Linked DNA regions of Homo sapiens. The protein of the gene in region 1 interacts with the protein of each later gene in a pairwise test. Each region holds a gene or a part of one and is shown on either strand. Other genes may lie near its edges. The genes, in order: ADGRF5 and NFYC.

What was found.
Region 2: the proteins of ADGRF5 (region 1) and NFYC interact in binary tests that used the Homo sapiens proteins (3 or more experiments, as listed by UniProt).

What each region holds. Positions count from the first base shown.
Region 1 is NC_000006.12:46,918,959-46,923,314, reverse strand, and holds the start of ADGRF5 (adhesion G protein-coupled receptor F5 precursor), read left to right. Parts: upstream 1-1,376; 5' UTR 1,377-1,602; intron 1,603-4,356. UniProt on the Homo sapiens protein: Adhesion G protein-coupled receptor. In alveolar type II (ATII or AT2) cells, required for normal lung surfactant homeostasis.
Region 2 is NC_000001.11:40,747,016-40,750,832, forward strand, and holds part of NFYC (nuclear transcription factor Y subunit gamma), read left to right. Parts: intron 1-518; coding exon 519-590; intron 591-2,557; coding exon 2,558-2,671; intron 2,672-3,817. UniProt on the Homo sapiens protein: Component of the sequence-specific heterotrimeric transcription factor (NF-Y) which specifically recognizes a 5'-CCAAT-3' box motif found in the promoters of its target genes.

The DNA.
Region 1 (4,356 bases):
ACTAAACTCTTCCTCTTCAGTTTCAGCAGAGTCTATAAACTCAGTACTATTATTATCCCACTTTCACACACAATAAAACTGAATCTCAGGGCCAGGAGCAGTGGCTCACGCCTGTAATCCCAGCACTTTGGGAGGCCGAGGCTGGGGATTACCTGAGGTCAGGAGTTTGAGACCAGCCTGGCCAACATGGAGAGACCCTGTCTCTATTAAAAATACAAAAATTAGCCAGATGTGCTGGTAGGCACCTACAGTCCCAGCTACTGGGAAAGCTGAGGCAGGAGAATCGCTTGAACCCAGGAGGCAGAGGTTGCAGTGAGCCAAGATCGCGCCACTGGACTCTAGCCTGGGAGACAGAGCGAGACTCCGTCTAAAAACAAAACAACACTGAATCTCAATAGGGTCAAGTAATGTGTACCCGGCCACATATAATTGGTGGGACTAAAGCATCAGTTCCTACAGTCTGACTCCAGAGTCCTTTCTTTGACACTATGAGGAATTCCCTGAAGATACTCTTGGGACTACCTGCATGGGACTCACCCGAAGCACTTATTTCCAATGCCGATTCCAAGCCAGGCCTCATTCATCAAACTTTCTGTGGGCAGAGCTCCAGAGTAGAGAGTCAAACAGCATTCCCCATCCGTGTTCTGACCTTGGGAAGGGTTCTCCTTGGGCCTCAGTTTCCTCTTTTGTAAAATGAGGATCAGTGAGGTCACTTCCAGTTCAAAAATGAGCTGACTATAATTCATCTTTAAACCCAGCAACCTGGATGCAGCCTGCCAACCAGGCCTTTACCATATATCTCCTTATCTTTAAATATCCATGCTATTGAGCGGTATTTTAAGTACCACTAAATTTATAGTTTGATACACAAATACTCACAGAGTTTCCCTGGAAACCTAGGAGAACTGGACGTCCCTCCAATATGGCATTTTTGAGGTACAGCCCTCCCGCGGGGGAGGACTAAGCAACTTCTCTAGGTCTCTTCTCTTCTGCGGATTCTTTTTTTCTCTGCTTTCTTGGCACTGCTAAAGACAAAGAATTCATCGATAGTCTTAATTTTCCTTCCTCTCTGAAGTTACAATCTAATTTAGTGGTCATCTTTTAAAAGTTGAAACCAGACATCCTGTACTTCTCATTAGCTCTAACCTATGTTTGGTTTGCTCTGGTTTTGCTTTTCTGATTTTTTTCTTTGGAGAAAGAAAAGTGAGAACTAGGGGCATTGGCCAAACAAGTCTGTCCACTTGGTGGAGAGGTTTCCAGATAAGAAGGATCTGAAGGACTTCCCATGGGCGTGAGGGAAATCGCACACGCCATCCGGGGAAGAGGACCAGGAAATCACTTTTTGTTTTTAAAACAGCAGCGCGGCTCTCAGGGATGACTCTGTGAGACTGGGAGGATCATAGCTGGGGGAGGCTGAGCGTGGGAGCGGTGCTGCCAGTCCTGCCTGAAAACGCGAAATGAGTCTTGCTTGGTTCTCCCTCCACTGGGCGTGAGAGCCCCTGCCCAGGAGGCCCAGGACAAATGGCCCCATAGTGGAAACTGGGAAGCTTTTAGGCATCTGATCAGAGCGGGAGCCAGCCGGGGGACCACAGTGCTGGACAGGTAACAGACATTTCTCCTACTGCGGTCTGTCATTCTGTCTCCCTTTGTAGCAAGACCTCAGGGGCTCCTAAGTCACTTCTCTTAAGACATCTTCCACTTACGATCCTCTTTGCCTGCTTTTCTTTTGCGTAGGTGTGATATGTATGTTGGGAAAGTTAAGTATGTCCAGTCAAGAGCATTGTGCATACTGTTGGTCCAGTTAATGAGACTATATTAAAGGAGATGGCGTATCAAGCAACTAGCTGGGATCCTTTAGGATTTTCTTAATAACAGACTTTTTTTTTTTCAAACAAGTTCTCTCGTCCTTAAACCAGAAAATACTATAAAAACCAGTGCATTCATGAGCTACTGAGCTGCTGCTCTTGCCAAGAGCATTTCAGGGCCAGTCGGCCATTGCTGTGGTCAGGCTGAGGAAGGAAGAGGCTGCATCCCAGTAGCAGGAGGAGGGAGCCCTGGCTATTCGCTCAGCTTCGGGAGAGTCCTTCCAAAGGACAAGGGATGACCTTAGAAATGTAAAATGTAGGCTGCAGCCTCCCACACAGGACTGAGGGGAAAGGAGTTTGTAGTCAGCATTAGGAAGGAGGTCAGTAAAAGTGCTGGGGCTTCAGGGCCAGGCCGACTTGTTTTGAAAGGAGCAACTCTATGATGTGCGGTTTGCTTAAACCATGTTTTCTCATATTTCAGAAAGCCAGGTCATGCCACTTCACTACAGCATTTTTTCTTTCATAAAGGGCTAACGTAGTTGGTTTTTCAATGTAGGTTATTTTTGAATTACACAGATAATACTTGACTATATTCTTATCGTAAAAGAATATCTCTAAATAGATTTTATTTTTATTTTTATTTTTTTGAGATGGAGTCTTGCTCTGTCGCCCAGGTTGGAGTGCAGTGGCACGATCTTGGTTCACTACAACCTCTGCCTCCCGGGTTCAAACGATCCTCCTGCCTCAACCTCCCAAGCAGCTGGGATTACAGGCACCCGCCACCACACCCTGCTAATTTTTGTATTTTTAGTAGAGATGGGGTTTCACCATGTTAGCCAGGTTGGTCTCGAACTCCTGACCTCAGGTGATCCACCTGCCTCGGCCTCCCAAAATGCTGGAATTACGGGTGTCAGCCATCGCAGCCAGCTTTCTGTTAACAGTTTTCAATTGCACCCCCAATATACACTCTCTTCCCCCCCCCCAAATATTATTCTATCAATTGTTTTCTGTGTTACCAGTTAAAGGCTTTATTTTCTGTTCTTCTGAGCTCTATAGGACAAGCCGGGGCACAGGAGTACAATAAATTCTCATTGTCAAGTTCTTGTGATTTATCCTAAACTCCTTCCTCTCAGTGAAAGATAAAATGATACATGGGAAACATGAATAGCTCTTTTAACTCTTAGAAAAGTATAAAGAGTTTTACTCATTTTTACCATTACTATTTTGTGTTGGTTTTGGCTTTGACAATTAATAATATTAGTAACAACCTCCTAAGGATTAAATTCTAGATTTGCCAATTAGTGGTTTGGGCTTTTCCCTTGAAGGGCATCAGAAGTTTCTTATTCTAGAAATGAAAGGGGAGAAGATAAAATAACAGGAAATTAACTAGATAGATAATAGCTAGATTGATAGATAAAGTGGCCCAGAGAACGTAGAGTGAAGACAGGAGAGATTGCCCTTTTATTCAGTGGATAATAAATGCATTTAACAGATCGGTTCATTTTCCATCTCTTTTAGTCTTCTGTAAAAAGGTGGCCTTCCCCTCCCCACCAACAATGTTAAGAGACAAGCAAATAAGGAAAACATCACTATGAACAAGTTAATACAGCTTATGGAGAGAGCCTTTGGGAAAAAGGTATAAATAAGCAGTATCAAACCCAAGAATAATACGAACACTTTCAATAGCTATTTCATATTTTCTTGTTCTTTACAGGGTTTCTCCACCCCAAACTATAGAGCCACTAGGCCTTGCTGATTTTGGACGTTCTGTAAAATTTGCCTGCCTTTGTCCCTTCTCCAGATCTCTGGCTACTCCGATGAATCATTTCTTCCAAGTGCACAGTGTTAGCCACATGAGAGACCTCCACTGAGGCCCTGTAGACTAACACTGCCTCACTTACTGAGTGTGGGTTTATTGACTATGATATAGTAACCTCACTTACTGCGCTATGGGGTACTTGGGGGCATTTTGGAGCAGTTAAAAATATCCCATGGGGTCCCACCTCCTCACGTTAATGAGGCTAATCTGTCTCCTCCTAAATATTATGCATTCAATCTCTTGTATTTATATGCAACTTTTTAGTTATCAAAAGACTTTTATGCCTCTTCTTTCACCATGTCACAGGTAAAGCAGGTAACTTATTCTCATCTAATGGAATACAAAAACAGGAAGTTCAGAGGTTAATTTATTTGCCTCAATGGCACAATGAATTTTTTTGGAGGACTGAGATGAGAAGAAACTCAGATTACTGTCTTTGCAGCCCCATTTTTTTTATGTCAGTACTATGAGGATAAAAGTCATGTGGAATAGAGAATTGATGCGATTGGCTGGATTCTGTCAGCTTTGTAGCCACATGGTAGATGTTTGCTGGGAATCTAAAGTTAGACTAAACTATTGCTTTGTCCAGATATTAGCAAGTTCTATCACCTGCTGTCCATCGGCGTCACCCTAGGAACTTAACAAAGAGAAAACAATGTCTAGACACTTTGCCAGAGAAACTGAATCACTATCTCTGAGGATGGGGCCAGGGCATGGTTAGATTTTTTGTTT
Region 2 (3,817 bases), on another chromosome or scaffold:
AGTGCAAATGTCAGAAATGGCCACTATCAGTTGTAAAGAACTGTGGATCACTGTGGTCAAGTGCCCCGGCGTTGCTGTTAGTTTGGTCACTGAATGGAAGAAAGAACTGGCAGTTTAGAGGAATACCCCTGAGACAGAAATCTCATTTTAATCTGCATATTGCAGACTGGTAAACTTACTTGGAAAAAAAAAGAAGGCGCTCATAATGTCCCTCTATGTTGTGCTGACGAAAAAAAAAAAAAAACAGATATTGCTTGGGGCTGTGTTTCATGAGAGCACTGTTAGAGGCCATCCTAAGCTTTTTCTAAAGCCCATTAATTCTTTGAAGACCTGCATATGTTAAGTAAAGAAGAATTTTGCTCTGGAGCTTGTATTTTCTTCATTTCATCTGTACCTTCTCTCCCGACATACGCTTCCTGAAGAGAGGGACCAAGCCAGAGTGTTTCCTACTGCCTGTCATGCTTTGCCACACTGTTGATTGTCCCCACCATTTATGCATCTCTTGTTGTTCATTTCAGAAAGACTTCCGAGTGCAGGAACTCCCACTGGCTCGTATTAAGAAGATTATGAAACTGGATGAAGATGTGAAGGTGAATTCACATTCATTTTTATTATTTCTTATTGAAGCTAAGTGATGGGTAGGTTATTGCTCATTTCTCTAGAGCTCAAAGTTTAATTAAACAAGAACACACAAAAATTACTGTCTGTTGCTTTGTTATTTGGTTCCTGTGCAAAATTGTTAAGTGAGCCAAAATTGAGCAGTTTTGGTTACTATATGGATCATCCTGAAAATTTTTTAGATGTTGAAAAAATAGTTGATGTTGGGTTTTTTTTTTTTTTTTGAGAGTTTTACTCTGTTATCCAGGCCGCAGTGCAGTGGTGCGAGCTTAGCTCACTGCAACCTCTGCCTCCCAGGTTCAGGCAATTCCCATGCCTCAGACTCCCGAGTAGCTAGGATTACAGGCGCCCGCCACCACACCTAGCTAATTTTTGTATTTTTTGTAGAGACAGGGTTTCACCATGTTGGCCAGGCTGGTCTTGAACTCCCGACCTCAGGTGATATGCCTGCCTCTGCCTCCCAAAGTGCTGGGATTACAGGTGTGAGCCACCGCATCTGGCCTTTTCTTTCTTTTTGAGACAGGGTCTCACTCTGTCACCCAGGCTGGAGGGCAATGGCATAATCACGGCTCACTGTAGCCTTCACCTCCCAGGCTTAAGTGATCTTCCCACCTCAGCCTCCCAAGTAGCTGGGACTACAGGCACGTGCCATCATGTCTGGCTTAATTTTTAATGTTTTTTTGGAGTGGGGGACAGGATCTCACCATGTTGTCCAGGCTAGTCACGAACTCCTGGGCTCAAGCAGTCCTCCAGCCTCAGCCTCCCAAAGTGCTAGGATTAGGCATGAGCCACCATGCCCAGCTGGTATCTCACAGTTCTGTTCACAGTGTAGTATATACATGTATCATCAAATCAACAGGACAGTGCCATCATCTTAGCGTCTTACATAGTTTGTTGATCTGAACTCTTAAGAAATTTTTGATAATGATATTCTACCTGTTCTAACCTTTTGATCTATGAGTTTCTTTTACATGAATAATACTTGTGAGAGGGTTTGCGTGGGCTTGGCCATTTCTGTATTCCTAGGAGTCCATCTCCATTACAGATCTCAGAGAAAGAGGAACTCTGTCTCTTTACCACTCAAAATTAATAGTCTTTTGTATTTTCACAGAAAGCTAACAATTGATAGTAATTTTCCCTTTTATTAGCTCCTTTCTTCCTCACAGTAGCCCTGTGAGATTTGATATAATAAGAATTATCAGTTCCATTTTACAGACAATGGAAATAGACACAAAGAGGTTAAGTGACTCACCCAGAGTGATAGGACCAAGATCCCATTTCCCATCTGCTGCTTCTTTAACTCCAGAGCTCTTTCTGTGGCTGTATCCTGCACAGACTACCTCACCAAAGGTTTAGAACCTTGTTTGACCAAGAGCTTCAACTTTGAAATCAGACACATCAAGAAAGTTTATATGGCTTGAGCATTTCCTATATGCCAAGCCCTGGGCTGGGTACATATATTATCTCATTTGATTGCCACAATAAAACTGAAAGGTTATCCTCTTTTTCAGTACATGAAAAAGCCCAAAAGGATGGGAAGCCTGCAATTTTATCCAAATCCATTGGCTTTCAAGCTCATTCTCCTTCCTCATATTGTTTCTCCTTGGATTAGAACCTAAACCCTGCCACTTACTGGCTCTATGGCTGTGGGCAAGTCACTTCATCTCTCTTGACCCCTAGTTTCTTTGAAAGGCTATTATAAGAGTAAGAAAACACCTTGCACAAGGTTTGGCGCATGGTATGTGCTAGATAAGTATTCTTTCTCCCTGTTACCTGCTTTGTTCCCACTCATGGATTTATTTTACCTTGGAATCTCTTGAGTATACCACCTCATTTTTTGACCCTTGCCCCATAGTCCCATGCCAGGCAATGAGGCAAGAGACAGACTGGTTTGCATGACTTGCTGGTGATTGACAGGGAGGGCCTGTGTCTGTTACAGATGATCAGTGCAGAAGCGCCTGTACTCTTTGCCAAGGCAGCCCAGATTTTTATCACAGAGTTGACTCTTCGAGCCTGGATTCACACAGAAGATAACAAGCGCCGGACTCTACAGGTATTATTGCAGACTTAGATTAGGAAAACTGGGGTAAGCAGCAGCCTTTGCCTGTTTTCCTGCGTGGTGTTGGAGAAAGATTGTTCTCCTTTAGGACCAAAGATTGTTCTCCTTTAGGACCAAAGATTGTTCTCCTTTAGGCCTCTATCAAGCTGACGTGTCATTGGCATCACCACTGTTGGGAGGCAGACATACCTTCTAGCCATGGTGATTGTGTTTCTCCACCAAAAATCTTAATCAATTCTCTCCTGGTTTTCACAGCTTAGTGACTGAACTCTTTTCCCTTGGTGAGCCCTCACTATAAACAGAGGCTCAAGTGATAAGAGTATTTACCTGTTTCCAAACGTAATCAACTTCTGGTTGGGAGCCTTGAGAGATTCCAGGAAGTATCATCAGTCTCACTAGCTTCATTAGGCTTTTTGTTCCTTGTCAGCCTTCCTGGGAGTCCTTTTCTTTTTCTTCTTCTTTTTTTTTTAATTTTAATTTTTAACCTAGCGAATTCACATTCATACTGTATGCAGAGCCCTTGGTCATTGACTCTAGAAACCCTCACCCTATAGCCAAGCCCTGGCTCTTAGAGGAAAGATTTCCCAGATACAAGAAGAAGAGTGTAACAAGTATAAAACAGTGGTGGCAGTATTTTAACAATGAAGCCAAGAAAGTAAATTATTTTCTCTTCTTGTTTCCCTTTACCTACAAAGTAGAAAATGCATGTGTTTATTCATTTATTCTAAAAATACTTACTGAACACCCACAATGTGCCGGGCACTTTTCTAGGCTCTGGGGATTAACGATACACACAACAGACAAAAATCCTTATCTGTGGGAAGCCTGCATTCTAGTACAGCTTGTCAATGCGTCATAAAGTTAGGATTTGTGTACATTACTATATGAAAGTTTTAAAGCAAAAAAAGCAAAAAATACTGAGCTCCAATAAATGATATGCATGTTGAAGTCACAAAATTTATGTTGCCTTGAAGTTAGTCTGTGGATCCAGAGAGATCCAGTTAAAGCTCCCTTCAAGATCAATTCAGATTAGAAAATAAAATAGGCAAAACACTTGGACAGACCTTCAGAAAAAAAGATAAACAAATGCCCAATAAACCCATGAGAAGATATGCAACATCATTAGTCATCAGGGAAATA